2 separate regions of the Homo sapiens genome follow, and region 1 is linked to region 2. Evidence: fine-mapped expression QTL. A gene starts in region 2. The other region holds a variant in brackets. All regions are shown on one strand. Distances are from middle to middle.

Region 1 (15,141 bases), 23 kb after region 2:
GGAGGCCATGAATCCAGCTGAAACTGGATAGTTATATCTGGTTCCTTCCTTTAGGAGGAATTTCAATTAGCAGTCTCTGCCACAGGCGACAGAATTCACTTTAATTGGTGGGCCTTAATTGGGTCATAATGGGTTGGTGGGAAGCAATATAGAATAGAGTTTAGAATCCAGGCGCGGTGGCTCAGGCCTGTCACCCCAGCACTTTGGGAGGCCAAGGCGGGAGAATCTCTGAGCCCAGCAGTTCAGCATAGACAACATAGTGAGACCCCCATCTCTACAAAATAAAAATTTAAAAATTAGCCAGACATGGTGGCACACGCCTGTAGTCCCAGCTACTCAGGAGTCTAAGGTGGGGGGGATGGCTTGAGCCCAGGAGTTCAAGGTTGCAGTGAGCGAAGATTGTGCCACTGCACTCCAGCCTGGGTGACAGAGCAAAACCCTGTCTCTAAAAAAATGAATATAAAATTTTTTTAAAAAGAATATGGAGCTTAAAGCTGGAGTCTGTCCAGTCCAACCACTTTGTTTTGGAGAAGTGTTTAAGACCCAGGAAGGGGAAGTGGTTCGTAGCACTTCCTGGGCTTCTTGTAGAGCAGAGGTCAGCAAACTTTTTCTGTAAGGGTGGGATAGTTAATACTTCCAGCTTTGCAGACCTTATAGTTTCTGTCACAACGACTGAACTCTGCTGTGTTAGACAAAAGAAGCCATGGATAATACAAATGAGCATGGCTGTGTTTCAATAAAACTTTATTTATACAAACAGGTGGTGGGCCAGGTTTGATCCCTGAGCTGTAGTTTGCCAACCCTTGTTGCAGAAAATAAGTGAGATTCCTGCAAAATGGGGAGCCTGGCACATCAGCACTGAAAAAGTAGCAGCTGCAGTTACTTTTGCAGGCGCCTCTTGTCACTACCGTCCCAGGGCATACAGCAGGCAGGTGGCAACACTGGAGTCTATGTTCTACCCTCTGTGCTGTGCTGAGCACAGTGCTGGGTCTCCTCCTCACTCTCGCCCTCCTCTGACCCACCTTAGAGCTTGCACTGTGGGACGACCTTTGCATTAGCACCTGTTTATGCCAAGTGCTACATGGGTTGGGGAGTGTTATGGTGGGGGCAGGAATAGGGGAGATAATCCTGCCCTCAGGGTGCTGTGCTGTCTAGATGAACACCTAGGAATTTTTTTTTTTTTTTTGAGACGGAGTCTCGCTGTGTCACGCAGGCTGGACTGCAGTGGCACAATCTCGGCTCACTGCAACCTCTGCCTCCTGGTTTCAAGCAGTTCTCCTGCATCAGCCTCCTGAGTAGCTAGGACTACAGGCATGTGCCACCACACCCGGCTATTTTTTTTTTTTTTTTTTGAGATGGAGTCTCACACTGTTGCCCAGGCTGGAGTGCAGTGGCGCAATCTCAGCTCACTGCAACCTCTGCCGCCCAGGTTCAAGCAATTCTCCTGCCTCAGCCTCTCGAGTAACTGGGATTACAGGTGCCCACCACCATGCCGGGCTAATTTTTGTATTTTCAGTAGAGACAGGGCTTCACTATGTTGGCCAGGCTGGTCTTGAACTCCTGACCTTGTGATCCACCCACCTCAGCCTCCCAAAGTGTCGGGATTACAGGTGTGAGCCACTGTGCCTGGCCTTTTCTTTTTTTTTTTTTTTTCGCGACAGTTTTGCTCTTCTTACCCAGGCTAGAGTGCGGTGGCATGGGCTTGGCTCACCACAACCTCCACCTGCTGGGTTCAAGCGATTCTCCTGCTTCAGCCTCCTGAGTGCTCGCGCCACCCTGCCCGGCTAATTTGTGTATTTTTAGTGGAGACAGGGTTTCACTATGTTGGCCAGGCTGGCCTCAAACTCATGACCTCGTGATCCTCCCACCTTGGCCTCCCAAAGTGTTGGGATTACAGGCGTGAGCCACCACGCCCGGCCTATAGGAATTTTAAAAACTATCTCAGGCTGAGAAATACCAGGCCAGGTTGGAGATGAGAGCCATCAGAGCAGCAGGTCCCTTGGCGCCCCTGAGCTCTCCCTTCTCTTCCCCCCAGGCTATGACTTTGCAGCCGTCCTGGAGTGGTTCGCGGAGCGTGTGGACCGCATCATCCTGCTCTTCGACGCCCACAAGCTGGACATCTCCGATGAGTTCTCGGAAGTGATCAAGGCTCTGAAGAACCATGAGGACAAGATCCGCGTGGTGCTGAACAAGGCAGACCAGATCGAGACGCAGCAGCTGATGCGGGTGTACGGGGCCCTCATGTGGTCCCTGGGCAAGATCATCAACACCCCCGAGGTGGTCAGGGTCTACATCGGCTCCTTCTGGTCCCACCCGCTCCTCATCCCCGACAACCGCAAGCTCTTTGAGGCCGAGGAGCAGGACCTCTTCAAGGACATCCAGTCACTGCCCCGAAACGCCGCCCTCAGGAAGCTCAATGACCTGATCAAGCGGGCACGGCTGGCCAAGGTAGACCCTGGGGTGAGGGGAGCAGCCTATTGCCAGGCAGGGCCATGGGGCTCTGAGACTGGCACTCAGGGCCCCAGGATTGCCCGAGACCCTTCCCAGCTCACTTCACAGGCAGACCTGCACTGCGCTGTTTCCCTCTATAGAAACCAGTCTTTGGTCAGCACCCGCGTGCAGCCTGCTCTTAACTAAGATTCTCTACCCGGCCTCCCTCTAAACCTGTTCTGTTTGTGGTTTATACCCCATCTACTTTCAGGAAGGGTTTGACTGTGCTTACAACACAGAAACAGCACACAGGAAGTTACCGCTGAAGCAAAGGAGGCAGCCTCAGAAATGGAGTGTTGGGGGATAGAGCTCTAAGGCTTGTTGGCTTCCCTCTAGGGTTTTTTGTTTTTGTTTTTGTTTTTGAAGCGGAGACTCGCTCTGTTGCCCAAGCTGGAGTGCAGTGGCATGATCTCGGCTCATAGCAACCTCCACCTCCCAGGTTCAAATGATTCTCCTACCTCAGCCTCCCGAGTAGCTGGGATCACAGGCACGCACCACTATGCCCAGCTGATTTTTGTATTTTTATTAGAGACAGGGTTTCACCATGTTGGCCAGGCTGGTCTCAAACTCCTGATCTCAGGTGATCTGCCCACCTCAGCCTCCCAGAGTGCTGGGATTACCCCTCTGGGGTTTACTGAGCCTGAAGTGCACTCAGCACAGTGCTGGATGCCGGGTACTGGCGGGGAGTGACACACAGCCCCTGTCCACTCCTCAGCCTTCATGGGGAAAGCAGAGCACGCAAACAAAAAATAAACATCAGTTATTTGTGTCGTCTCGGAGCGAGCACAGGCTGCTGCGGGAGCTGGCGCTAGGGGCTGTCCCAGTGGAGTAGAAGGGCTGGGGGGGCCTGGCAGGAGCTGAAGCTTAAGCTGTGACAGGAAGCAGCTCGTGAGGAGACAGGGTGCCAGCCTGCAGCCCGGGGAGCACTGTGCATGGAAGCCAAGGTCACGCTGAGGCAGTGTCAGTTCAGCAGGCCTTGCAGACCATCCTTAGGTCTCCTGGCAGCCCAGGCCTGGTGGCACCTATCAGCAGCCTCTGAATGGCCAAAGGGTTTGGAATCTCAGTGGCTGACCAAGTACTTGAGTGAGAGCCGGTGTGGGTGGGGCCAGGAAACAAAGGTTAATGCCACCAGCGGGCCCTTCCAACACAGAATGACAGAACACATGCCCTTGGCGTGTCTGACTTTGGATAGCACCCTATCGTGAGCCAGCCTAGACGAGTCACCATGAGTGACAGTCCCGGCTGTGGTTGGGGTTGACCCCGTGGACAGGAGTGTTTGACACAGATTGTCTGAACAGCTGAGAAGTGACCAAGCCCACATTTGTATCAGCAGGGCACCTAGCTATTCTTTCAGGCTCTTAGCACAGGGCTCGGTTGTTTCAGAAATAGGCTCCAGCCAGGCATGGTGGCTCATCCTGTAATTCCAGCACTTTGGGAGGCCAAGGTGGGTGGGCGCATCACCTGAGGTCAGGAGTTCGAGACCAGCCTGGCCAACATGGCAAAACCCCATCTCTACTAAAAAAAATACAAAAATTAGCCGGGCGTGGTGGTGCGTGCCTGTAATCCCAGCTACTTGGGAGGCTGAGACAGGAGAATCACTTGAACCCAGGAGGGAGAGGTTGCAGTGAGCTGAGATCACACCACTGCACTCCATCCCAGGTGGCAGAGCAAGACTCTGTCTCAAAAAAAAAGAAAAGAAATAGGCTCTGGCCAGGCATGGTGGCTCACGCCTGTAATCCCAGCACTTTGGGAGGCCAAAGCAGGAGGATCCCTTAAGGCCAGGAGTTAGAGACCAGCCTGAGCAACCTAGTGAGACCCTGTCTCTATTTAATTTAAAAAAAAAAAAAAAAAAAAAGGCCCTTGCCGTAGCTCCTATCTCCAGGCCAGCCAGGCCGGAGCGTGGCTGGGGAACTGTCCTGCCTGCCAAGCCAGGCCCTTTGGTGATACGTCCCCAGTTCTTCAACAGAGCAGGGTGCTTGCCCCCACCTCATGGCATGCAGGGGGTACCAGGGTAGACATCATGTGGGCATGAAGGCTTCAGTGACAGATGTGCCTGTGGCCAGGGTCACAGTCCCCTGATCTCCAGAATATAACTGAGGACTGAGGATGGGCACTTCCTGGGGAGCCCATGTCCCTGCCTGCTCAGAGGCATGGAGACTGCAGGCGTTGAGCACAGTGGCCCTCGTACCCACTCTGTCTGGAGGCCAGTCAGAGGGCATGTGGGTGCTACCTGGTCTGAGCAGTGAGAACTGACCCTTCATCCTTTGCCACCACTGTCCTCCCATTGTGCCCCAAGTACCCTGGGCCCCACCTCACCCTGTAGATGAGGAATTCTCATTCTGGCCTGAACCTCCGTGAGCTGTGTGCACGGGCGTGGGTCAGATGCCGGCTCTGGAGGACAGAGGGCTGCGTGTTTTTCTTATTTTTAATTTTATTATTTTATTTTTTGATTTTTTTGGAGATGGAGTTTCACTCTGTTACCTAGGCTGGAGTGCAGTGGCGCAATCTCGGCTCACTGCAACCTCCGCTTCCCAGGCTCAAGCCATTCTCCTGCCTCAGCCTCCTGAGTAGCTGGGATTGCAGGCGCCCGTCACCACACCCAGCTAATTTTTATATTTTAGTAGAGACGGGGTTTCACCATGTTGATCAGGCTGGTCTCGAACTCCTGACTTTAGGTGATCCGCCTGCCTCGGCCTCCCAAAATGCTGGGATTACAGGCGTGAGCCACCGCGCCCGGCTGGCTGGATGTTTTTCTAGATCTCTCCCTTCTGGAGCCTCCCTGTGAGTGGAGCCAGCTTTGAGAGAGGAACCCATACAAAAACCCAGGTGACTGACCCTGGCCTCAAAGGACAAAGGACGTCCTGAGCTGAGGGGTGTGGGTGTGGCCCTAGCTGAGTTTCTCTCCTTGCAGGGCAGAGAGAGCTCCCTTGCTCAGCCACCTTTGAGGACAGACAGGACAAGGGGCAGGCATGAGCCCCTGCCTGGTCGTCTGTGAGACCATGTGTGACTGCCAGGCCCCAGGCACACTGAGTCACCGCGCCTGGAAAACCCTGTGGCCTCCAGTGTTGCCTCACACCTGCCACTTCCTTTTCCTGGAGTGAGTGGTGCTCTCTGTGATGACTCCCACCGGCCTGGGATCTGCCTGCCACAGTGTCCCTGGGGAGACTCTAGATCCAGACCCACATGGCACGGGGCTGCCTCCCTCAGGCAGTTCTCAGCCAGGCCCCCACCCAGGGCACAGGCTCAGGCTGAGCGGGGTGGTGGATGGGCTGGAGCCGGGGAGAAGGGCAGCAAGGCTGGCTGGCCGCAGCCCTCTGTGGCTGGACACGACTTGGCAAGGCCGAGGGATCTGAGGGCTGGGCTACTCTCGAGGGCTGCCAGGTTCCCAGCTTGCTGCAGGGAAATGAAGGGGGTGCCGCCCTGAACAGGCACATGCCTAAGCAAGGTATTGATGCTTGGATAAAGCTGGCAACCACCAGGAGAAGCCTTTTTGGGATTTTTCAAATCCTTCGTCATCCGAGCTGTGATGATGGAGTGGAGCGTGGCACGGGCCCATTGGAGTTCTGTGGGCTCCATCGGCACTCAGCAGGGATTTGGACGTGCAGGCTGGTGGGCCCTGCAGGAAGCCTGCTCCCTGCTCTGCTGCGTGGGAGGGGGCAGCTCGGGGGAAGGGGGCTTGCAGAGAAACAGAAGAACATGGGCTGTGGGGCACCTTCAGCAGCCCGGGGTTCCAATCCCAGCTCCTCCATGTGGGAGCCAAGCACCCCAGGCAGCCTTTCCCAGCCTTGCTTAGGGCCGGGTTGGGAGAATCCCACCCCGCAGGGCTGTGGTGAGGGTTGAACGGAGGGTGTGTGGTGAGGGTTGAGCGGAGGGTGTGTGATGCGTGGTGAGGGTTGAGCGGAGGGTGTGTGATGCGTGGTGAGGGTTGAGCGGAGGGTGTGTGATGCGTGGTGAGGGTTGAGCGGAGGGTGTGTGATGCGTGGTGAGGGTTGAGCGGAGGGTGTGTGATGCGTGGTGAGGGTTGAACAGAGGGTGTGTGATGTGCCCAGTGGTACACGACAAATTGCCTTCTTTGGGTTGACAGACTGGGTTTTACTCTTCCTGAATCATCACAATGATCCGTGCAAGGCCAAGGCTGTTGTCTTCTGTTTCAAGTGCGTTTTCCTGTCCTGTCCTCTGTCCTGTGGCAGTGGACAGCTGTGGCTCTTGCCAGATTGTGTCTGCTCCTAGGACTGTGGGAGCCGGTGGTGGTAGCGGCCTTGAGCTTGACCCATCCCTCCTGCTTCCCTGTTCCTGAGCGAGCACCTTGGAGTATCCTTGGAGTGTCCTTGGAGGCTCTGCTCTCGGGGGCAGCCTGGGCCAAGAGAGCGCCTGATGCTCACCCCGTCCTCACAGGTTCACGCCTACATCATCAGCTCCCTCAAGAAAGAGATGCCCAATGTCTTTGGTAAAGAGAGCAAAAAGAAAGAGCTGGTGAACAACCTCGGAGAGATCTACCAGAAGATTGAGCGCGAGCACCAGATCTCCCCTGGGGACTTCCCGAGCCTCCGCAAGATGCAGGTACGGCTGTCCCGAGGCCCCATGCAGGCTGGTGGCCATCAGGGCAGAAGGAAGGCCCAGGGCACTGGATTTGGAGGGAATCCCATCTCCATGGGGAAGGGCCTCCCTGAACGGAAGCAGCTGGGTTAATCACCAGCACCCCACCCAACTCAGAGTTGACCCAGGCGGTGACACTGCAGAGGGGAATGTGGTGACTCACCCTGCGTGGTGGGGGGAGGGCAGGGCCATGCCAGGCGCTCTGGTGCCCTGTCCATGAATCCTTGCCGCAGCCCTGCAAGGAAAGAGCTGGAG[G/A]TGCCTCCTGTGTACAGGTTAGAGAGCCAAGGGCCAGATGGTTTTGCCGAGTCGCCCCTGCTAGTGTGGGGGAGCAGCACTTTATGCTTGTGAAGCCCTGACTGGAACCACTTGGCCTGGAGTCTGGGAGGGGCCTCCCTTCCCAGCCCTTGTCCTTCCTCCCCCGCCCACAGGAACTCCTGCAGACCCAGGACTTCAGCAAGTTCCAGGCGCTGAAGCCCAAGCTGCTGGACACGGTGGATGACATGCTGGCCAACGACATCGCGCGGCTGATGGTGATGGTGCGGCAGGAGGAGTCCCTGATGCCTTCCCAGGTGGTCAAGGGCGGCGCCTTTGACGGCACCATGAACGGGCCGTTCGGGCACGGCTACGGCGAGGGGGCCGGCGAGGGCATCGACGACGTGGAGTGGGTGGTGGGCAAGGACAAGCCCACCTACGACGAGATCTTCTACACGCTGTCCCCTGTCAACGGCAAGATCACGGGCGCCAACGCCAAGAAGGAGATGGTGAAGTCCAAGCTCCCCAACACCGTGCTAGGGAAGATCTGGAAGCTGGCCGACGTGGACAAGGACGGGCTGCTGGACGACGAGGAGTTCGCGCTGGCCAACCACCTCATCAAGGTCAAGCTGGAGGGCCACGAGCTGCCCGCCGACCTGCCCCCGCACCTGGTGCCGCCCTCCAAGCGCAGACATGAGTGATGGCGCCCGGCCCCGCACCTGCCATTTGCACGCCCGGCCGGGAGGCAGAGACGGGGGGAGGGGAAGCCTCACCATTTCTCAAGGTCCATAAAGACTGAGCGGATGTTTCCTCGCCTCTCGAAAAGGAAAACCACCATCTTTCTTTTAAGGCTGTTCCTGGGCCTGGCGGGGGAGGCAGGGGTGAGAGGATGGAATTGTGTGCACAAGAACTGTGGCTATTTTAATATATAACGTTAGAGGCTGCGTTCTTTGTCGCCGCCTCCCCTGTGTGCCAGCCCTGTGTGCACGGCCTCTGCCCCCCGGCCTTTGCTGTGGCTGGAGCTGGACAGTGCAGCGACTGCGACCGTGGGGGAGCCAGGTCGCCCTTTTGGCAGCTGCTAGGCTGAGGCTGCATGGACAGGAACACCAGGCACCCTCCGTGTGCTTCTGAGCTGAGGTTGCTTCACGGGACCGTGGCTTCCTTCCTCACCTGGCTCTGCCTCCCCCGTGCTCTCGGGCGAAGTGGGTTCTTGTGCCTTCCCCTCCCGGGCCCAGGCTCCCCGTGCGCGGGCCCTGCCCTTTCCTCCCGCGCCCCACCGGCTCCGACGCGCAACCCCGCTCAGCAGTCACAGAAGCAGGGCCCAGCCACCTTGGTCTTTTTTTGGGAGTTCAGGGGAGTAGGAGAATGTCTTCCAGAAAAATACATAAGCTAGTTTCTGTTCTGTAAAGTGATATCTTTCATACTTGACCAAAGTTCCCAATAACTTCCCAACCACTGTTCAAAAGCTGTGATTTTTGTCTCCCCTTCCCACCCTCCAGCCAAGGAGCAGCCCTGCCCAGGGGGCATTAGGTGTGGGTACCCGGGGAGCACCCCGTTCCTGGACCCCAGTGTTGCATTTCCTGGCTGAGGAAGGGTGGTCATCCCAGCTCCTGCCCTACCCTCTCACTTAACTGGAGCTTTGGGACGCACCCTCCACAGTGGGAGGTGGTGGTGGGTGGCGGTGGCGGGGCCTCACGACAGCTTGGTGCTGGTAAGAGGAAGCCCGTGGTTCTGGCTAGGCTCTCATGTCCAGACAGCGGGGACCAGGGGAAAACCCAGCCCCTTCTGTAATCCCCCTTCATTTCCTACCTTCCTTCCTCCTCTGTTTAGCAAAGGAGGGCAGCTCACTTGGATGTCCTTACAACGCCCCTGGCCCCCAGGTTGAGCAATAAGAAACCAGAACCTTGCGGCCCAGTGGCCCGGGCCAGTTCAGGCCGCCTCCCCCTCCTCTGCCTGGGGCCATTGAGCCCAGCCTCCAGGGCCCGGGCGCGTTTGCAGGCCAGTGGCCACTGTCCGGGCTGTGATGGCACCAAGGCAGGTGGAGCACCAGGTACCACACAGCTGGGCTTCCCACCAGGCTTTCCCGCGGGGGTCTCAGGGAGCTTCTCCCCAGCGCTGCTCGGAGTCTGCAGGAACTGGCCTTGTTCTCCTTAGCCCGTCACTCCATACAGTATTAGGTGAGGATGGATGCGGGCGCTGTCCTTGCCGGGAAGTCACTGTTGAAGTTGCAGTGGCTTGTTCACACCTGTGGGAAGAGAAGTGAAGACTTTCTCCTTGCATTAAAAAGTCTGAACTGTGCGAAAGCTTCGGGTGCTTCCTTGTCTTTTCCAGGGGCAGCAGTCCTGGGCCATCCTCCCCTGGTGTCTGAGGGGGTGATGCCAGCAGGGACAGAGTGGCAAGGCAGCCGGGGCAAGGTGACCAACCCTGCCCAGTCCTGCTCTGCTGGGCAGTAGCTGCCCCCTCCTACTAAGAGGGCCAGGCCTGTAGGGAAAAGGGTTTCTGGGGTGATGCCCCCTTCCCTGAGCAAGGTGGGAGCTGAGCAGTTCACTTGGGGTGGGGAGGGGGGAAACAGTTGGGAGGATGTTGATAGCTGAGGCCTAGGCTGGCACCCCTCAGCCACAGACGGATGAGTGGGCACCTGCAGGCCCTCGGCACTGGGTGGCATCAAGTAAACAAGGGTTTCTGGGCTTTGGAGCCAGACTGGCTCCTTGCTAGCCCCAAGGACGGTTTAAGTACAGGGAAGCCGGGCCTCTGAAGACAAAGCAGATAGCCTGTGACAAACATGCAACTAAGGGTGGGGCCAGTCAGGCCCAGGTGATGTCACAGATGGGGGACTGTTTATACCAGCAGAGGGAAGGGTGACTGATTAGTGACCCTTCATAAAAGGGTGCAGACTTGAGGTGCCATGGGTAGAGGCTGCTCCAGCCCCTCTGGCAGAAGGCAGGACAGAAACAAGTTCCTGAGGGTTTCAGGGACCCAGTTGTGTGCTCCGAGCCTAGCTGGTGTGGTGGTGTCTGGTCCTATGACCAGCACTTGAGGTGCCAGTGGATGCTTCAGTTGCTGCAGGGCTGGCCGGCCCTCCCTGCGTCACTCAGCTGCCACCTGTGGGCATTCACCCTGTGCCAGGTGGAGCTGCGCTGTCACGATCTGAGGAAGTTCATGTTCCCCCATTTCACAGAGGGAGAGTCCGAGACTGAGGACTGCCGAAATAACAAAGGTGGTAGAAGCAGATGCAAACCAGGCCGTCCAACTCCAGCGTGCTTTCCATCAGGTTACTAATCCAAAGCACACACTAAGAGGAAAAAACGGTAGATCCCCCCAACCCCACCCTTAGACTGCAGCTGTACTCAGGGCTGAGAGACCCACATTAAAGGTTAAATGCTGTCACTCCAGCCTGGGGTCCTGAAAGCTTGGGGCAGGGGTCACCCAAGGGAGGTGGAGCATTTTTGTTCAAGCTGTGAGCACATTAGAGAAGGCACAGAACTTAGCAGTGCCCCTGAACTAGGAGGAAGGGAAGTGCTGCCTGGCCGCCCGCTCTCCTTCCCGGAGCACTCCACCTGCAGGGCTCTGTGTGGCCACAGAGGGGCTGTGAACCCCCTGGGGCTGCCCCAGGAAGCGCCTGCTGATCTGAGGCTTGAAAGGGGCTGAGGGCAGGTGTCTGCCCCAGAGTTCATAGCCCTGGTTTCGGTTCTACAGGTTGGGGATCATCTTTGGGCTCCGACCGGGGTTCAGGGAGGACCAGAGGATGTGGTCAGAGATGTGGCCGCCCACCTAGAGGGCTAGTCCCAGCCCTCGCCTCCTCCCTAGATCCATAGCTGGCCATGACCCTGGGGAAGAAGCCTCCTCTTCAGAGGCTGGCCTGGGGCAAAGGAGGGGCATTGCCACCCAGCTACCAGAGCCCGTGGACTGAGGCCTTCAGGGCAATCTGTCGCCCACGCAGCACCTCACAGCCCAGGACCCAAGAGGCAAAGGGCCCGCCCACTGCCTCTGGCCATGCACAGCTGTTTTCTATGTTGCAGTTCCTTGTAAGATCTCATTCAGAATAAACATTTCTGGCTGGGTTTGGTTCACACCTATAATCCCAGCACTTTGGGAGACCAAGGTTGGGGGTGAGGTGGGGTCGTGTGAGGCCGGGAGTTCAAGACCAGCCTGGGCAACATAGTGAGACCCGCCCCCCCCCCCGCCCCCACACCATCTCTACCAAAACAAAAATTAGCCAAGAGTGGTGATGGGTGTCTGTGGGTAGTCCCAGCTACTTGAGAGGCTGAGGTGGAAGGTTCACTTGAGCCTGGGAGTTTGAGGCTGCAGTGAGCTATGATGGCATCACTGTACTCCAGCCTGGGCAACACAGTGAGACACTGTCTCTATTTAAAAAAAATTTTTTTTAAATAAACATTTCTTCTCCTTAGAAAAGAAGTTAACCACAAATCCAGTCAGTGCCCTGTTCTTATCTCAAATGGGTGTTCTAGAAGAATAGACCAGTAAAAAATAAATAATGGCCGGGTACGGTGGCTCACATCTGTAATCTCAGCAATTTGAGAGGCCGAGGAGAGTGGATCACATAAGGTCAGGAGTTTGAGACCAGCCTGGCCAATACGGTGAAACCCTGTCTCTACTAAAAATACAAAAATTAGCCAGATGTGCTGGCTCTCGCCTATAATGCCAGCTACTTGGGAGGCCAAGGCACAAGAATCGCTTGAACCCAGGAGGCAGAGTTTGCAGTGAGCCAAGATCGCACCATCGCACTGCAGCCTGGGCGTCAGAGCAAGACTACGTCTCAAAAATAAATACATAAAATAAATCAAATGGGCTAGTCATAGGACTTGCCCGGCCACGGCCAGCAAGGTGGTGAGAGTTGGGAGGTGAGAACATCCGGCCACCACTCCTGTGTTAAAAGCGCACCAGGTCTGGCAGCACGTGGAGGGCAGCCTTGGGGAGACCGCCCTGAGTTCAACTCCCAGCTCTGCCACTCTAGCCAGATCTCTTCCCCCACTGAGGCCATTTCCTCAAGCCTTAATTCAGGAACAGATGTGGCCCACAGAGGCAGAGCCCGAGGACACCCACCTTGAGCGGCCTTTGCCAAGCACCCCAAGGAGGTTAGTCGGGTGGGGTGCAGGGAGCAGGGCACCTCACCCAATACCCAGAACAAAACAGGCCAGCCCCTCCCTTCCCTGAAGCAGCTCCCAGACTCAGTGGCGCCTGTAGGCTAGTGAGGTGGTGGCCAAGTGGGCTCGGGCCTGGCTTCCTGTGCACCCAGAGGGACTGATAATTGTAAAACCACATGGGGCTGCAGCCGCTGCAGAGCGTGGGAGCCCCTATGGCTTGTTGGAACACTGCAGGGAAGGTTTTTGGAAGAAAAACCAGGATGATGAAACCACCATATGTCCACCCATTTGGAGCTTTGGACTTTTCATAGGACACGCCCCTGGTGCTGGGCAGATGGGGTTGGGGAGGGGGCTGCCAGGACTAGCTGGGGGACTGGGGGGTCCACACCCCTAGCATTTGCATCAGCTCCTTCCCAAAGCCATCCCAACAGACGCACCTTCAAATAAGAGCCAGGCATCTGAGGCTCAAGGGTGGGCTTAGGGAGCTCCCCGGCTCCAATCACATTGCCGCCCGTGCTCCTTCAGAGAAAGGTTGGGACGGCCATTGGTGGCCATACTGGGAAGCTCATTTGTCTCTCACACCTGAACAGGTGCAGTTCTCCATTATACACAAAAAGACAGCGTCCAGAGAGTGAGGAAGAGATCTACCCAAGGCCCCACGCCTGGTCAGCAGCGGGCAGGGCTGCAGGACCCAAGGCCAGCCTCTCATGTCCTGACCTCCTGGGTAGGAGCGGGCCACTATGCCATGTGCACGTTTCCAGAGTGGCTAAGGGCAGGGGGCGGCCGCCATTCCTGCCAGCCCTGAAGAACCATCTGGTGGGAGCTGCTTCCCGAGGCCACGGCTGGAGACTCTCATCCTAGGCCTTCCCCTGAAGGCTGATTCTCAGGACTTTGAGGAAGGGGGCGCTCCAACCCTGGGCTCAGCAGCCCTCCAATGTGGCCAGGATGCCACAGACCTGGGCAACCTGCCTTGTGTCTGGGCTCCCAGCCACAGAGGGCTATGCCCTTGGGGGCAGACACAGGGTTCCCTGCCACTTCCTCATGCTGGGTTCTCAGGTCCTCTCCCTGCCCCAACACACCTGCCCTCTGCAGGGCGAGTCTGCACTCAAGGAAGGAGCTCAAGGCTGGCACCACCTCCCTCCCCAGCTTCCATGCATTAGTCTATAAAGGAGGGTAATAACTCTCTCCTAGTGTGGCCCTTGTGAAGATAATAGATCTAAAGTCACTTTAAGTTACCAAGAGGCCCCTTACACTTGCAAGCTGTTATCAGCATGAGTGCTCCCCACAGAGCTGGGTGAGAGAGCTAGTGATGTCCCTCAGTACCAAGGGGCTTGCGGGATGAGTGAGAGGCTGCGGGGGGTAGCTGAGCCCTCCTGCACCTGGGGAGTAGTCGACCATGGAGGAGGCATTTGAATGAAGGTACCCTGGTGAGAAGGAAAGGAAAGAGGGTGGCCTGACTGCCTGGACAGGGTGTGACTGAGGCTCTCGGGGGTGTCTCCTGTCAAGACTCACCCATCCCTGTGAGCTGGGCCTTGGGCTGTGCCATGCTCAGGGCTCTGTGGGGAGCGTGTCAAGGCTGCTGTGGCCCTAGTGGTCTGGCCCCACAGGATCAGAAAACAGATCTGCTGAGCCAACATGGTGCCATGCCCTGGAGCTGCTTCGGGCAGTCAGGGCTGGAGGCCTGGCTGCTTGCTAAGGCTGGAATAAGCTCAGAAAGAGACTGAGCCTTTACAGACTTCCTTCCATTGGAGCTGCAAAGGAATGAGCAGGGGGCCCAACCCTCCCCCTTTATTTTTATTTATTTATTTATTTTGGAGACATGGTCTCATTCTGTCACCTAGGCTGGAGTGCAGTGGCACAATCTCAGCTCACTGCAAGCTCTGCCTCCCAGGTTCAAGTGATTCTCCTTTCTCAGCCTCCCGAGTAGCTGGGACTGCAGGTGTGTGTCACCATTCCAGGCTAATTTTTGTATTTTTAGTAGAGACAGGGTTTTGCCATGTTGACCAGGCTGGTCTTGAATTCCTGGGCTCAAGTGATCCGCCCACCTTGGCCTCCCGAGTAGCTGGAACTACAGGCTCTCACCACCACACTCAGCTAATTTTTAAGTTCGTTTGTAGAGATGAGGTCTCACTATGTCACCCAGGCTGATCTTGAACTTCTGGGCTCAAGTGATCCTCCCACCTCGGCCTCCCAAAATGCTGGGCTTACAGGCATGAGCCACCATGCCCGGACCCAACCCCCTTTTACAGACAAGGAAATTGAGGCTTACAAGACAGATGTGACAAAAACTAATAAAGGACCAGAAAGAATCACGTGTGAGAGGCGGGAGGTGCCGAATGCCAGTCCCAGCCCTGCCCCGTGCAGCCCTGGCCTCAGCCCTGGGACTCAGTGTCCACTCAGCTATACTGTGTGGGGATGGACAGATGGCTGGGGATGAACCTTTCTGAGAACTTACCAGAGAGGTTAAGGGACTTGCCTGAGGTCACACAGGGAGTGAGGCAGGGCCCAGAGGCCTCACCAGGGGTGTCCACGAGGGGCAGCGGAGGAGAGGCCCATCTTCCCACCCAGGAGCCCTTCCCTATCTCCGGTTCCCTAATGCTGGCTGGAGCGCCTGTCCCTCCTCTGGTCTCTGGCGCCCCCGTGTGGCCTCAGTGAGCAAGCCCCTTCCTACCTCCTGTGGGCTCCACCCCTGCCCCGC
Region 2 (15,141 bases):
TGTAGCCAGGTGATGCTGTATTCCCTTCTGAAATCTATCCCAGTGATTGGTACTCCATGGTCACTTTTGGGTCCTTCCATTTTCTTCTCTGGTCCCATGTCTAGTGGCTGCCAGGTGTTGCCTGTGAAGGGACTCGTGGATCGACAAAAAGACAAATCTATTGCAGTAGCTACCTTCTACTGCTACACAACAAAGTGCCACAAACTTTGTGGTTTAGAACCGCCCCCATTTATGAGCTCCTGGTTCTGTAGGTTGGAAGTCTGGGCCCAGCATGACTGAGTTCTGTTCTCAGAGTGTCAGATGCTGAAGGAAGGTGGCAGCCAGGCTGCCCTATCACCGGGAGGCAGGGGAAGGAATCTGTCTCCAAGCTCATTCTTGTTGGCAGAATCCGGTTCCTTGCATCCATAGGACTGAGGTCCCCGTTTCCTTGCTGGTGGTCTGCTGGGGCCCCTCTCAGCTCCTAGAGGTCACCCACATTCCTTTCCACATGGTGTCCCCCAGGCTGGAGTGCAGTAGCACAATCATGGCTCGAAGCAGCCTCAACCTCCCTGGCTCAGGTGATCCTCCCACCTCAGCCTCCTGAGTAGCCGGGACTACAGGTGCATGCCACCACACCCAGCTAATATTTTGTATTTTGGGTAGAGATGGGATTTTGCCATGTTACCCAGGCTAGTCTTGAACTCCTGGGCTCAAGTGACCCACCCCCTCAGTCTCCTAAAGTGCTGGGATCACAGGTGTAAGCCACTGTCCAGCCAGCTCTGCTTTCAGAGGGCTCAGTGAGCTGGGGGGCCCACTGGGATTATCTCCCTTTGTACAGTGGACTGCACCATCTAACACCGCATGTCATGGAGTAAGTCACCAGATCCGCATTCCCAGCATTACACTGGATATGTACACCAGGGGTGGGGGATCTTGCAGACATCCTGAAATTCTGCTTAATGATGACCAAAGGGCAAGAGAGGTGTTTCTGGGACAGGACATGGAGCCAAGGGGCAGGGGACCAGGTTGGGTGAGCAGGAGACGGAGGCCTGACCCCACCTCTGAGAGGGTCCCACTATATTCCTGCCCTCGGGGACACCCCAACATGTACCTCTAGGAGCAAGCATGGTGCCTGGGCAGACGTGGGCCTCAGGGGAGGGTTCTGGTCTCCAGTCTCCTTGCAGATGGAGCGTCACCATGTTCTGTACTTAAGGGCACAGTAAAGAAGCTGCAGGTGAGAGGAATGTGGCAGCTGGGCCACAGGACGGGGAGGGAGACTGAGTGTCGGCAGACAGGCGGGCTGGGGGACCACCATGTACCACCCCAAGTGACCTACAAAGAGACTTTAATTTGGGGGGATGGAGGAGGGAGGTGTTCGCCCAGCAGAGGGGACAGGAGGGTGGCCTTGGGCACGATGTTTGACTCCTGAGGTGTGGGAGTGAGGAGCTGGGCTTGTTGAAGATGGGCTGGGCTCTGTGCCCTGGTGGCTGAGTGTGACACAGAGTTGGGGACAGAATTACCCTCCAGCCCCCCAGCCTGTGAGCCCATGGTGAGGCTCAGGGCCACAGCAGGGCAAGGCCAAGGCAAGGGAGAGGCAGCTGGAGCAGAACTTGGGCAGGCTCGTTCTTGCACACACGAGACACACTTCAGAGCCCCCGGAAATGCAGAGGGGCCGTGTGCACGGCAGCAGTCTGCACTCATACAAGGGAGGCTAAGACCATGCACCTCACTTGTACTCTCAGGCTGCTGAGGCTGGGGGACAATGGGGTTACACTCTCCATTTCATTAGTGTAGGGCAAGGGGGACCCCAGCACCCCACAAGGGACCCCCTAATGTTGTCACCACAGAAGGCGATTGCTTATGTGCCAAATAATAAGCCATTTCCTGTGGAGTCAGGCAAAGGCCTGGGCCCTCCAATAAGTTTAGGGCAAACCCTGCACCCTGCACTCAGCGGCAGCCCCAGCCTCATCAGCCCCAGCAAGGCAGGGCCAGAAGCTGCAGGGACTGAGACACACACACAGAAAACTGGCAGGTGAACTAGAGCTTTTACTGAAAGTGCTCAGAGACCTATAAGTCTCAGCTCTGCAAAGCACTGTGCAGTTATATGTGTACATCATCCTGATAAATGTGTAAGCCTGTCCCCCAGGCTGCAGAGCAGCAAAGGGGCTAGGAAGGGCTGGTGAGCTTCAGGGCAGAGATTCACTTCAGCCTGCATCTGGGGAAGAGGCTCTTGAAACCCTCTTTCTCTGCTTTTCCACCTGCCCGTCCTTGCAACTTCAAGTGGCTGGAGTGTGGAAAGGGCAGTGTTAAGATTCAGAAGGCCCTGGCCAGGCGTGGTGGCTCACACTTGTAATTCCAGCACTCTGGGAGGCCGAGGCAGGCAGATCACAAGGTCAGGAGATCAAGACCATCCTGGCTAACATGGTGAAACCCCATCTCTACTAAAAATAGAAAAAATTAGCCGACGGGCATGGTGGTACACGCCTGTAGTCCCAGCTACTCGGGAGGCTGAGGCAGGAGAATCACTTGAACCCGGGAGGTGGAGGTTGCAGTGAGCCAAGATCACGCCACTGCACTCCAGCCTGGGCAACAGAGGGAGACTCCCTCTCAAAAAAAAAAGACTCCGAAGGCCCAGATTCTCATTCAGTCTGGGCTACTTCGAGCAGTCACTGGACATCCCGGGCCTCAGGCTCTTTCTCACTGGAATTTGAAAGCAGCTAAGATTCTGACACGGTCACCTCCAAATTGGGCCATGTTCTGGCTGCCAGATGCCTTCAGAGCCCTCTGGGGCCCAGCAATCTCCCCAGAGCCATCACCCAAGGGCCACAGCTGCTGCAAGAGAAAGGCCTCATGGTGTGGAGAGGACACTCTTCTTGCCAGTGTGGGAGACCCGGCATTCAAAAGAACAGTCCTCCTCAGTTCCTCACCTTGTGTCGGGAAAACTGATTTGTTGCCCAAATCTCATGACTGTGAGAACAAAAATCTGTGCTGATATGCAAACTCTGTCAGTGGAAAGAATGAACCACTCCTCATCCCAGGGAGAAACCTATGTTTTGGTTTTTCTCAGCTCGATTTTTCTGCCATATTTGGAGAAAAACTCCTTAAAAAAAAAATATCGACTGGGTGCGGTGGCTCATGCCTGTAATCCCAGCATTTTGGGAGGCTGAGGTGGGTGTATTACTTGAGGTCAGGGGTTCGAGACCAGCCTGACCAACATGTATTTTTAGTAGTCTCTACTAAAAATACAAAAAATTAGCCAGGCATGGTGGCAGGCGCCTGTAATCCCACCTACTTGGGAGGCTAAGGCAGGATAATCACTTGAACCCAGGAGGTGGAGGTTGCAGTGAGCTGAGATCGCACCATTGCACTCCAGCTTGGGTGACACAGAGTGAGACTCTGTCTCAAAAAAAAAAAAACACTCTCAAACATAGTTTATTATATAGGTGAATCCTGGTCCCTGTGATGGGCTTATTGGTACGATTTCTGGTAGCAAGCATAGGTACCAGGGCCTCCAACGTTTTTGGATTTGCAGCAACGGGGGTCAGCTACTGACAGGGTCCAGTCATGCTGGATGAGGATGCCTCTGGTCCTTTTGGAAGCCTCATCCATTTATTTCCGGTAATAGGCCACTAAGGCTTTGGAGATGGACTGATGTTGATAGCATAAATCTGGGTCACATGACCACCACCCTTCACACAAACATGCGTGTGCATGTCAGCAAATTGCTCCTTGCCCAGAGGCAGAACTAGGAACTAGTTCCAGCAGCTTGAATTGCAGCGCTCGGCTCCATCATCTCCAGGGGCCATCCATTCACCTTGATGAGGCCACTGCCATGTTTGCAGTGGATTGCACGGACTGCAGCTGGCCCTTGGATGGCATAGCCAAGAGCACAGATAAGAGCTCCTCACTGCACGGCACCGCAAGCGGAAAAGGCACCTCTCTTTTTTTTTTTTTTTTTGAGATGGAGTCTCCTTCTGTTGCCCAGGTTAGAATGCAGTGGTGCGATCTTGGCTCACTGCAACCTCCACCTCACGGGTTCAAGCGATTCTCCTGCCTCAGCCTCCTCAGTAGCTGGGATTACAGGCACACGCCACCATACCTGGCTAATTTTTGTATTTTTAGTAGAGACGGGGTTTTGTGATATTGGCCAGGGTGGTCTTGATCTCAGGTGATCTGCTTGCATCGGCCTCCCAAAGTGCTGGGATTACAGACATGAGCTACTGCACCTGGCCTTTTTTTTTTAAGTTGTCTCTAGGGACCTTGTAGATGTTTTCCTAGATCAGGCCATGACAGGACCAAGCAGACCACTTAGAGGGGAGGTGAGGCCCCTTTCTGCTGGATGAGGGCGTTTCTGAGGAGAGCTAGGGGGTACCTCAAGGCCCTGGGTTTGCAGGGAATGGATTTATTAACTGAAGAATAAAACACTGGGAGTGGGGGATGGCACAGTTTCTGAGATAAAAGAAAAATACTTGAACCCTCCATCAATCTGCCATGGGCTCAGGCAGACAGGCAGAAAGTGAAACAGCGGAGAAACCAAAAGTGAAAGGGTGCATTCACATTTTATACAACTTTCCCACCAAACAAACTGCCCTACTCAGAAAACACAAAAGAAAAAAAAATTAGGACATTTTCGGTGTGGGGCATGACAAGATAAGGAAGCTGCCTGGAAGCTGGGTGCCAACTCCATGAAATTGGGGGAAACTAATTGCTGGTCACGTGGGCCTCACCAGGGTGACAGAGATCCCTTCTTTCAGTCCTTTAAGATCTTTGGAGAAAGTCAAGTGGCCATACATAACGACAGGGTCTGGGTTTTGTTTATAAATAACCCAGGAACATTTTGTTGTTTTCAGTTTTCTAGGGCTGGGTTTTCCCAGCACACAGGGCTCTGGGGAGATTTGAAAACCATGGCGCGTCAATGAGAATGCTGCCGGGGCGCCAGTTTGGAGCAGCCTCATTGAGACGACTGAACAACTACTTCATTCAGGATCCTCAGCCCTGGGCCCTTCCCTAGATCAACCCAGAAACTGCATCTCCGGGGTGGATCCCTAACAGTGCTGAGTAGGAGGCAAACACTGTGGCTTCTAAGGCTGACCCGGGAAGTCTGGACTAGGCCCGCCGGAGGCTCCTCGTCACCAATTGGCATGCAGCCTCTGGTGACAGCTCTGCCTAGGAGCCTCAGTATCTTCTTTTGAGAATAACACCAAAAAAAAAAAAAAAAAAAAAAAAGGGGGGGGGCAGTAGCTTGTGTGCTTTACTATGATGAAAAGAATCAAATCAAAGCACTAAGGGGCGTAAGATTGCAGGCAGGGTTGGAATTACTTATCCGCTCTCCAATGGTTAGGGAGCAAGAGGGGAGGGCAAGGGAACTATCTATTCCCTCGGAAGGGATCTTACAAGCGGTAGGCGAACAAACCTCCCATCGTGTCCTCTCTAGATTCCACCACTCAGTTCCCCTGAGATATCCCCCGTTCTCAGATTTGAGTTCCTGCCTCTTCCTCTTAGCCTACCAGCCCAAGTTATCCCCTGATACAGGCCCCTAGCCCTCCAGGCTTCCACATCTCCCAGAAGCGAGGAAGTTGGACCTGAGGCTTTCAAAGTCGCAGGTTCAATTCAGATCTCTTTAAGAGCCCCCAGGGTCCTGCTACCACAGGTTGGTGTCTTGATACTGGTTACATAACAATCAGTCCCCAAAGCTCTGACATCACCCACTGAAGATTCTCACCAGCCTGGACAGCCAAAGGGGTCTGTGTGTGGCCGGGGAGGATGGCGGGGGAGTGAGCCCCATGGAACAGCCAGGAACTGGTAAGGGGAGGTAGGGCACAGATCCCAGTAAATGATGGTAAATGGTGGTGACCCCGAGAGGAAAGTGGAAGTATTTGGGTTTTTAAACTTCCCCCTAAATTCCCACAAGATTTCATTGTTGCCCCCACACTTCCCCTCTTCCCCACATAGGGAATTTCCGATTTCACTTCCCAATACGCAAGTGGCCAGAGAGCCTCAACTTCCTCCTCATGCCCTCCCTGCCTTGCCCCAGCTATAGCCTTTGTGGGGAAGCCTTCTCTTCTCCCGCGCGAGTCCGGTGTCACCCATGTCCTCCCTCGCTTGCGTCCCTCTCCCATTCCCACCCCGTCGGCCTGAGGGGAGGTCAGGCCTCTCGCTGCCCATTTTTCTTTCCCCAGTCACCAGCCCGCCCCGGATTCTCTACTCCCTCAGCTTGCTCTGCTACCACTTTCCTGTCTCTCCCTCTCCCAAAGCAGATAAAAGATGAGGGGACAAAGACAGTGTGTGTCTGGGAAGCTGGGCTGAGAGGAGGAGGTGCCGCCGCCTGGGGGTACTCCGATGCTTCCGGGGATTCCGAGCCAGCTGGAGGACCGCACGTGGCGAACGGCGGGCGCGGCGCGTAGTCAGGGAACCAGGGTGCCTGACTGGGTGTCTCGTGGAGCCATCCCGCGGGGGTGTGGGGGGGCCACGGTGCCGGAAGGCGCGCGGCCCAGAGGCCGTCTCCGCCGAACGCCCGCTCCTCGCCTTCCTAACCGCAGCACTTTCGCGAGCCTCCCTACGAGGGGCGGGGCGAAACAGGTGCGGTTGCCACGGCACCCGGACCACAGCCTCGCGAGATTTGGAATCAGCCAATGGGGGCGGGGTAGGGGAAGACGTGGCACCAGTCGGAGGGGCGGGGCTGGGAGGGGCTCCTCCCTACCGCCCCCAATTCCGCCCTGCCCCCGCCGCGGCGGCGCTAGCCGCCACTGAGGGACCGACCCTATAAAGGCCGCTCCGCGAGGGGTGCGCAGCATTCGGCAGAGGGCGCTTCGACGGGCTGGGCTGTGCGCCTGCGCAGTGTGGGTCGCTCCCGATTCCCTGCCCCGGCCGGCCCCGCCTCGGCTCCGCACCCTCGCCCCGCTCTCAGCCGCCGCTCTGCCCCGCAGCAGCCAGCCCCGTGTCCGGCAGTATGTTCAGCTGGGTCAGCAAGGATGCCCGCCGCAAGAAGGAGCCGGAGCTCTTCCAGACGGTGGCTGAGGGGCTGCGGCAGCTGTACGCGCAGAAGCTGCTACCCCTGGAGGAGCACTACCGCTTCCACGAGTTCCACTCGCCCGCGCTGGAGGACGCTGACTTCGACAACAAGCCTATGGTGCTCCTCGTGGGGCAGTACAGCACGGGCAAGACCACCTTCATCCGACACCTGATCGAGCAGGACTTCCCGGGGATGCGCATCGGGCCCGAGCCCACCACCGACTCCTTCATCGCCGTCATGCACGGCCCCACTGAGGGCGTGGTGCCGGGCAACGCGCTCGTGGTGGACCCGCGGCGCCCCTTCCGCAAGCTCAACGCGTTTGGCAACGCTTTCCTCAACAGGTACCCACCCATCACTCCAGGGGGCGGGGGGCGCGTCCGGGGCACACCCCTCACTCGGAGCCTGACCCTCCCGTGGCTGTCGCCCCGCCGTCCTTTGTCTCCGAGGCCCCAGTGAGACCCTCAGTGACCACTCCCTGGTCCAAGGGCCCTGCCCCTTCCCAGAGTAAACCCACTGGGGGTCTAAGAGTGGGCGTTGTCGGCTCCCCCAGCTTCTGTCCTCCCCAGAATCTTCCAGGGTAACCACCAAGCCCTCCTGCAGATCCCAGCCCCACTCCCCTCAGCAGCAGGGCCGCAGTAGGAAGCTGAGCCATTCCTGCGCTCCTTTTCTTGGTCTCCACCTCCGTCCCGCAGGCTGGATGCACCTAATTCACGGAAATCAACCCTCCCCTCCCTGTCTTCTTAAGTGTCAATAGCAAAACACAATGAAACTTTTAGCCATTCCCTTCTCTGGTGCGGTGTGGGTCTGCTCTGCCTCCCCTGGGACGGTGGTTTTGTGTAGGAGGGAGGAGGAGGATCGGCTGTGGCTTGCTGACTTTGGGGCAGCCCCTTGGAGGCAGGGGACAGTTGAGGTTCGAACACTTCTCCCAATGGCAGCTCTCAAGAGGTCAGTGCTGCCCTGAGGGGTTTCAGGAAGCAGGATGAGGTGGTGGCAGTGGGAGCCCTGCAATGAGATTCTGGCCCTAAGCCCTTCTGTGCACTGAGGGACAGAATCTGAGGTTCCTTCACCCACTTGGACCTCACTTTTCCAGTTAAGTGGCCTCTGCACGCGAGGAGAGTGAGCTCCAGGACTCTGCCTGTCTCAGTGCTGTGAATGAAACACAGTGCTCCCGCCCCTCAAGGAGTGCAATGCCCAAGCTCACTTTTCTCCAGAGAAACTCGAGACATGCCCGTCCCAACCCCCAGGCGACATACCAAAGTACTTCACAGACCCTGTCCTCCCTGCCACCCCACGTTCACGGACTCCACATGCCTTTCATAATTCTGCACCAGCGAAGAGCCTCTGAAGGAATCTTTGAATCCTGCCTTCCAGGTCCCCGCCCTGCACGGTCACATTCCTTTCCAGACGCCATCCAGCTGTGCAGGGCAGCTTGCCCTAGAGCCAAGCTGGTGGCCAGGCCTACTCCAGGCACAGAGCTGACCTTCAGCAGGGTCTGTTCACTTCCAGGCATTTCAGCCCGCCCTCCTGTTTTACGGCTGTTGATGTTTGTCTGTCAAGGCCAGGTTGAGTGCAGCCCTTTGGGCTAAGGGTCCTGAAGAGGCGGAGTCCTCTTCACTTTCCTTGTGAGGGCACACCTTTTTTGAAAGGAGAGACATGGCACAGGACCAGTTTTCTGAATTTGGAAGCCTAGAGTTTCAGAGCTGGAAGGATCTTAGACATCATCTTGGCAGCCCCCACCTGACTGGTTCAGGAAACCGAGGTTCAGAGGGTCTGGCTGATGTGTGGAAGTCACCCATTAGGTCAGCCAGCACTGACTGCCTGGCTTTTGCACAGCCAGTTACTGCTTTCTGCTGCTTCTACCCGAAAAAGAGCAATTCGAGATTGCTTTGTCCGAGACCGGTGCTTTGATGACATTGGTGCCACAGGATCTGAGAGGTGGCACACGTTTATTTCCTTCTTGCTGCCACCTCATCTCCAGAGGATCCCTGATCACTGATGGCCCTGCCGAAAGGGCCCTATCAGCCCACGCTGAGGCCCAGAGCTGTGCCAGGATGTGTAGTGTGGGGAGTGAGCCCGGCGAGGAGGGTGCAACAAAGGAGGCTTTTCTCTGGCTGATACAGCCTCTCCCAGCTGAGTCTTGAAGAGACTCATTGAGTCGTGAACTTGACTTGCCGGCCTTCTCCCCCTATGTGGCTGCTCTAAGAATAAAATCAGCTGGAGCAGACCAAGGCAAGGTGCAGTCAGGGTGTCTTAAGAGTGTCTTGCAAAAACTTATTGCATAACTGGGACTGCCACTTGTGCGAGATGAAACCTGTGCGTTCTTGGTGAGATGGAATCGGAGGCATCTTTGCTGCTTCCCCTTTCTTGTTTTCTGCCATATACCCTGGGCTCTGCAGAGCAACTGGTTTCTGGGTCCTATAGATATTAACTCACTTTCTGGGCTCATTTATGAGGCATTTTTATGTATGTGATTTCCCAGAGCCAATTCTGCTTCCCATCCTTCTATTCTGTAATCATCTCTCCAGCGCCTCCTGTCCCCAGCAGGAAGGCCAGGACTGGCCTTCATGCATTGCTACTGGCACTGGCGAGAGTGAGGCCCACGTTTTGCTCGCCCTGCAGGTCAGCTGGTCTTGCTCCACTGCCTTGCAGAGCACCCCTTGCCCTGGCCAGCTGCCCTCTGCCCGTGGGCCCCTGGTCACTGGGGGATGGGGCCAAAGGGAGAAGCTGATCGGCTCAGAGTCCTCCCGTCTGTTGGAAAGGCAGCTTCAAGTCTGTGTCCTACAGATAATGGGTCAGTCTTTTCTTTGCTCTCACTACCTTTTTCAGAGAAGTTTTTTGTTTGTTTTTTTGAGACAGAGTCTCGCTCTGTTGCACAGGCTGGAGTGCAGTGGCGCACAATTTCGGCTCACTGCAAGCTCCACCTCCTGGGTTCGAGCAATTCTCCTGCCTCAGCCTGCCGAGTAGCTGGGACTACAGGCGCGTGCCACCATGCCCAGCTAATTTTTCTATTTTGGGTAGAGATGGAGTTTCACCATGTTGGCCAGGCTGGTCGTGAACTCCTGACCTCAAGTGATCTGCCTGCCTTGGCCTCCCAAAGTACTAGGATTACAGGCGTGAGCCACCACGCCTGGCCTTTCAGAGAACTTTTCAAAGGAGCTTTTTCTGCGTCCAGTGAAGGATCCCTGCTCTCAACTGAGACTGCCCCTTGCCTTTCTGGGCTGTTCTAAGCTTAGTGTGAAACTCAGATATGCGTGGCTGAGCCCTGGCCCGCAAGTCGCCAGCCTCTCCACGGCTTTGTTCTTCCTCAGCCTGCTCGGACTTTCAGAGAATGGCGCGTCTGTGCTTCTCCGTCCCACCGTCTACCAGCCTGTGTGGTCCCCAGCTTTTGCCAGCCGTCCATTTCAATTCCCTCACCCAAGCGGCTGGTTGAAAGGGCAGGGCTGGCCCTAGCAGCAGTAGGAAGCGGCCAGCTCTCTTCAGTGTGGAGATTTAGCCAAGTGCTGGAGGATTCTGAGATGGGATTTCAGCGCCCCAGCGTGACCTTCTGCTTCCCCTCCGAACTGAATGGTGACCTAGGCTTGCACAGTTTTCACTAACAAGTCAGCAGCTTGAAAGTTGACCTCTCAAACTCTAGGGGAAAAGTGTGTGAGGAAGTGCTGATTTGGGTCAGTTTGAGCCTGCTGGTTGCATTCCCAGTTGAGAAAGTCCATACGATTTGCCGGCCACCCCGGGAAACTAAGACGATAGAAAACCACCTGTCAGTTCCCCGCTGCTGGAGAGGAAGCCAGAGATGGAGCGAAGGAGTACAGAGAGCCCTTTGTTGTGTCCGGAGCAGTGATGACTGTGTCTTGACGCCTCTCTTCTGGCTCTTGCTCTCATGTAGGTTCATGTGTGCCCAGCTGCCCAACCCCGTCCTGGACAGCATCAGCATCATCGACACCCCCGGGATCCTGTCTGGAGAGAAGCAGCGGATCAGCAGAGGTAAACAGCTGTGACCACAGCTCGGGCTGCTGGTGTTGTCACACATCCTTCTCTCTAAGATCTGCAACTTGGTTCAGATGCTGCCCTTGAGATTTCTCCTTTTTTTTTTTTTTTTTTTTGACGGAGTCTTACTCTGTCACCCAGGCTGGAGTGCAGTGGCGCGATCTCAGCTCACTGCAACCTCTGCCTCCTGGGTTCAAGCGATTCTCCTGCCTCAGCCTCCTGAGTAGCTGGGACTACGGGCATGTGCCACCACGCCCGGCTAATTTTTGTATTTTTCGTAGAGATGGGGTTTCACTATATTGGCCAGGCTGGTCTCGAACTCCTGACCTCATGATCTGCCCGCCTTGGCCTCCCAAAGTGCTGGGATTACAGGCGTGAGCCGCCACACCTGGCTGCCCTCGAGATTTCTTCCAGTCTCAGCCTTTCTAAAAAAAAAAATGTGGCCGGGCACGGTGGCTCACACTTGTAATCCCAGCACTTTGGGAGGCCGAGGTGGGCGGATCACGAGGTCAGGAGATTGAGACCATCCTGGCTAACACAGTGAAACCCCATCTCTACTAAAAAATAGAAAAAATTAGCTGGGCGTGTTGGTGGGCGCCTGTAGTCCCAGCTACTCGGGAGGCTGAGGCAGGAGAATAGCGTGAACCCAGGAGGTAGAGCTTGCAGTGAGCCGAGATCGCGCCACTGCACTGCAGGCTGGGCGACAGCGAGACTCCGTCTCAGAAAAAAAAAAAAAAGTGTCCGAGTAAGAACCCATTTTACATCAGCCTCCCATCTCCACAGTGCTCTGTGCACTGAGAGGGCGGGAGCTGCTTTCTTTCTTGGCTCCCTGGGCCTAGGCAATGGGAGCAGCCATGGTGAGACCACAGCCAATCTTATGTGGCTGTCATGCTTTTGAACCCCTGGGGCATGCTGGAAACAACAGGATCAGAATCGGGCCATGCTGTGAGGGTGCAGGAAGCATTGCTGACTCTGAACAAGCCCCTGGTCCCCAGAGCTTATTAGCTTTAGTCTGTGTTTAACAGCCTTTGCCCCCCAAAGCCATATACATTCCTCACACGTCCAGCAGGACTGAGAGAGAGCCAAGCAAAAGGAGAAGCTGGTAGAAATTCATGAAACGGGCTGGTGGAAATTTGCTTACATTTGCTTAGAGGTTGACAGCAGCCTCCCTGGCTGAGGCCTTCTTGCTATGCAGTAGTGCACCGTGCCCATTCCAATTGTGTAAACTCCTGCCTAGATTCTGCCAAGCTCTTTTGAAGATCTGGTTCAGGATGAGCCTGAACTGGGTCCTCCATCTGTCACTGCCCCTTTTTCACAGACGGGTGGGGCGCTTTGGGGCCTGATGCTTTCTGGGAGGAGCTTGAGGGTAGGCTGGTACCTGGCAGGTGAGGAGTGGAGTCTACAGCTCCAAATGTGAAAATGAAATAAGATCAAACTCAAAGAGGGGTTGAGGACAAGTGAGCAAGTTTGTTGATGATTAACTTGCAGATCCTTCCCGTGTCCCTTACCCTCTGGACTGGCCTTTGCTGGGTGAGCCTTGCAGTCAAAGCCGGCAGCTAGGATTTGGGGTGCACATGTCTCTCTGCTAGGGCTGTGAGGGCATGGGGACTCTGTTCTTGGAGCTGAGAAACCTTGCTTCTCTTTCCTTCCAGCCTTGCGGGCCTTGCCCGTGTGGGACTGCATCAGAGCGTACTGAAATCACTGGCCCTCATCTGGTTTCAGAGCTGCCAGTTAAGCTGTTAGATTCTCCCACCCCTGGTGACAGTGATGCACCTAGGAGTTAAGGGAGTAGATTTGGAGACCCCTTTAAAAAAAAAAAAAAGCGAGGGCTAGTATTTTTATTTCTTACTGCTATTGTTGTTCCAACCTAGTTTTAGTAAATGCCGGATAAGCAAAAGCCCTGTCATTTGCCAAAGCAAGGTCAGAAAATCTGATTAAGTTACTCTTTTATTTTTTTGAGACAGAGTGTCGCTCTATCGCCCAGGCTGGAGTGCAGTGGCATGATCTCGGTTCACTACAACCTCCTCCTCCCTGGTTCAAGCGATCCTCCCACCTTAGCCTCCTGAGTAGCTGGGATTACAGGTGCATGCCACCACGCCTGGCTAATTTTTATATTTTTAGTAGATATGGGGTTTCGCCATGTTGGCCAGGCTGGTCTTGAACTCCTGACCTCAGGTGATCTGCCCGCTTCGGCCTCTCAAAGCATCATCACAGCCTTGAACTCCTGGGCTCAAGTGATCCTTCCACCTTAGTCTCCCGAGTAGCTGGGCCCACAGGCGCGGGCCATCATGCTCGGCTGGGGTTGTATGTCTTGTGTTGCTTGCCTTGGCCCCTGCCCTCTGAGATGCTCCCTCCCCACCTCCCACTCCCTCTGCTTCCTTTCCCTGGTAGGAAAGAGGCAGGCAGAGGTGTCTACACTGGCTGTCTCTGGGACAAGCACCAAAGTGTATGCTCCATATCAGTGGATCTGCAGACACAGCATGGCGTTTTGATTGGGAGCAAGGGGTGGACGTAGGTGTTGCCTTGTGGTCCCTGCCCTGGAGTTGCCTGTGCAGACAACAGGTTGGAGGAACAAGCCAGCAGGACATGAGGCTGCTGTCAGTGTGCTGCCCTGCTCTGCCTGTGTGGCCTCCCTCTCCCCTCCAGGTGCAAAGTGTGGCCCCTCTGCATCCCTGAGAGGCCAGGCTCCCCTATATCCACAGAAGGTCATCTCTACCCATTATGGGCAGGAAGGAGCCGGTGGCTGAAAGAGAAGCACATCACGCTGATTGGAGGAGGGGTTTCCTGCTGTGAAGTAGCAGAAGATCAAACCGATTTTACTAGACCATTTCTTTTCCTCCATAGCCCTAGAGGCCTTGGTTTAGATGTGTTTTACTAAAAGTTACCTGGTTAGGGTTTGAATGATGGTGTTTTATTGTCAGGAGAAAGACCATCGCTCAGTACCTCTTGGAGGTGCTGGGTGTAAACTCCAGGATGAGCCCCGCTAGGTGTACACAGGAGGAGTGGATTTCTGTTTCCTGGAGGCCCCGCCCGTCAGTCATGGAAAGGCCCGTGTGGCCTGTCCAGCGGAGGAGGTCGGAGTGGAGCAGTGCGTTCCCGGCAGGGCTGGCCACCTGCTACTGCCTTTGCTGGTGGCGTGGAAAGCAGGTGTTTCCCTCTCGGAAAGATGGGGCCGGCAGAGCACGCACCAGGGCCCCAGCACAACACGCCTCCCCTGGCCTGCCAGCCCGTTCCCTGGAAACATGTCCTTGTGGAGGCCGTGGATGGACATTGGGGTTGCTAATTGCATTTACTTCCATTTCCCACCCCGTCTGGCCCCGCCTGGCCCCTCCTGACTTTTTTTCCCCTTTCCCCATGGTCCTAATGTGTGCAGGAAACACGGTCTGAAAAGATAAGGTGGGCTGGTGCAGGCCCAAAGCAGTCAGGATGCAGCCAGGCTCTGTCAGGGACCCCTGAGGACTGCCTCAGGGACGAGAAGGGGGCCGGGTTGGGGTCTCTTGGGCTGCCTTTGCCTGTGTGCTAATCTGAGTGACTTTAAAGATACCGTTCTCCTGTGTCAGCAGAGAAAGGTGGCCTCTGGGGGCTGCGTTCATTCTTGAGTGCTGCCTGTGTGACTGATAAGGGCATTCCAAAGGGCAGCTGGGTCCGGCAGGGGTGGTGCCCTTGGCTCCAGGGGCTGCCGACCAGTTGCGTGGTCCCGGCAGTGCCTCATGCCGAGTCATCCCCCGGCGGGGCCTCTGTGGGCAGCCCGGCCAGTTCGTTCGTTCCCCACCATGGTCACTAGGCAACTGTGAACTAAGCGGGAGTTTTTGTGTCTCAATCTCCCCATGAAAGCTGTATCAGCATCAGCAGGGTAGTGTTTCTACTTGCAGTAGCAGATCAGAGACCTGGCCAGCTTTGTGTCTGACTTTCTGCTGGCCACTGCCACATCAGTGAGTTCCATTGAGTTATCACAGCAGCTGCATCTAGGAGGAAGCTCCTGCCTTTCAGAGGAGGAAGCAGAGGCTTAGGAAAGTTAAGTAATTGGCCTAAGATGACAGGCAGGCCAGCAAGTGTCGGCGCTAGGATTTGAACCCAGGTAGGGGCTGTGCTCCTACTGCGGCGGAGCTGAGAAGGGTGCCTTGGCATGAAGGCTGTGGGCGAAGGAGTGCCGGGAGCTTGGGTCA

What was found. PIP is the estimated chance that this variant, and not a neighbour inherited with it, causes the effect. A credible set is the group of variants that fine-mapping cannot tell apart.
Region 1: its variant is the best candidate, but not a certain one, in a credible set for the expression of EHD1 in whole blood (INTERVAL, PIP 0.55).

The regions. Positions count from the first base shown.
Region 1 is chr11:64,847,231-64,862,371 of GRCh38, reverse strand. EHD1 (EH domain containing 1) reads left to right here. Exons shown (of 5, transcript NM_006795.4): 3 at 2,036-2,448; 4 at 6,886-7,050; 5 at 7,515-10,730. The coding sequence ends at 8,039. Among named protein-coding and RNA genes, the nearest start is that of CDC42BPG, 10 kb to the right of the region's middle. RefSeq lists enhancers at 7,295-7,354, 6,596-7,795, 7,043-8,041, 8,042-9,040, 10,358-10,487 and 5 more and silencers at 8,638-8,697, 15,134-15,141. The variant G/A (reference allele first, on the strand shown) is at 7,342.
Region 2 is chr11:64,870,252-64,885,392 of GRCh38, reverse strand. It overlaps EHD1 (EH domain containing 1), which reads left to right and starts at 6,772. Exons shown (of 5, transcript NM_006795.4): 1 at 6,772-7,332; 2 at 10,875-10,972. The coding sequence starts at 6,929. MIR10392 (microRNA 10392) reads left to right here and starts at 6,784; the gene lies at 6,784-6,870. It also overlaps the pseudogene RPS16P6. RefSeq lists enhancers at 4,254-4,343, 4,404-4,453, 4,624-4,773, 8,096-8,195, 7,859-8,635 and 2 more and silencers at 6,386-6,945, 6,966-7,015, 7,866-7,935, 11,467-11,657.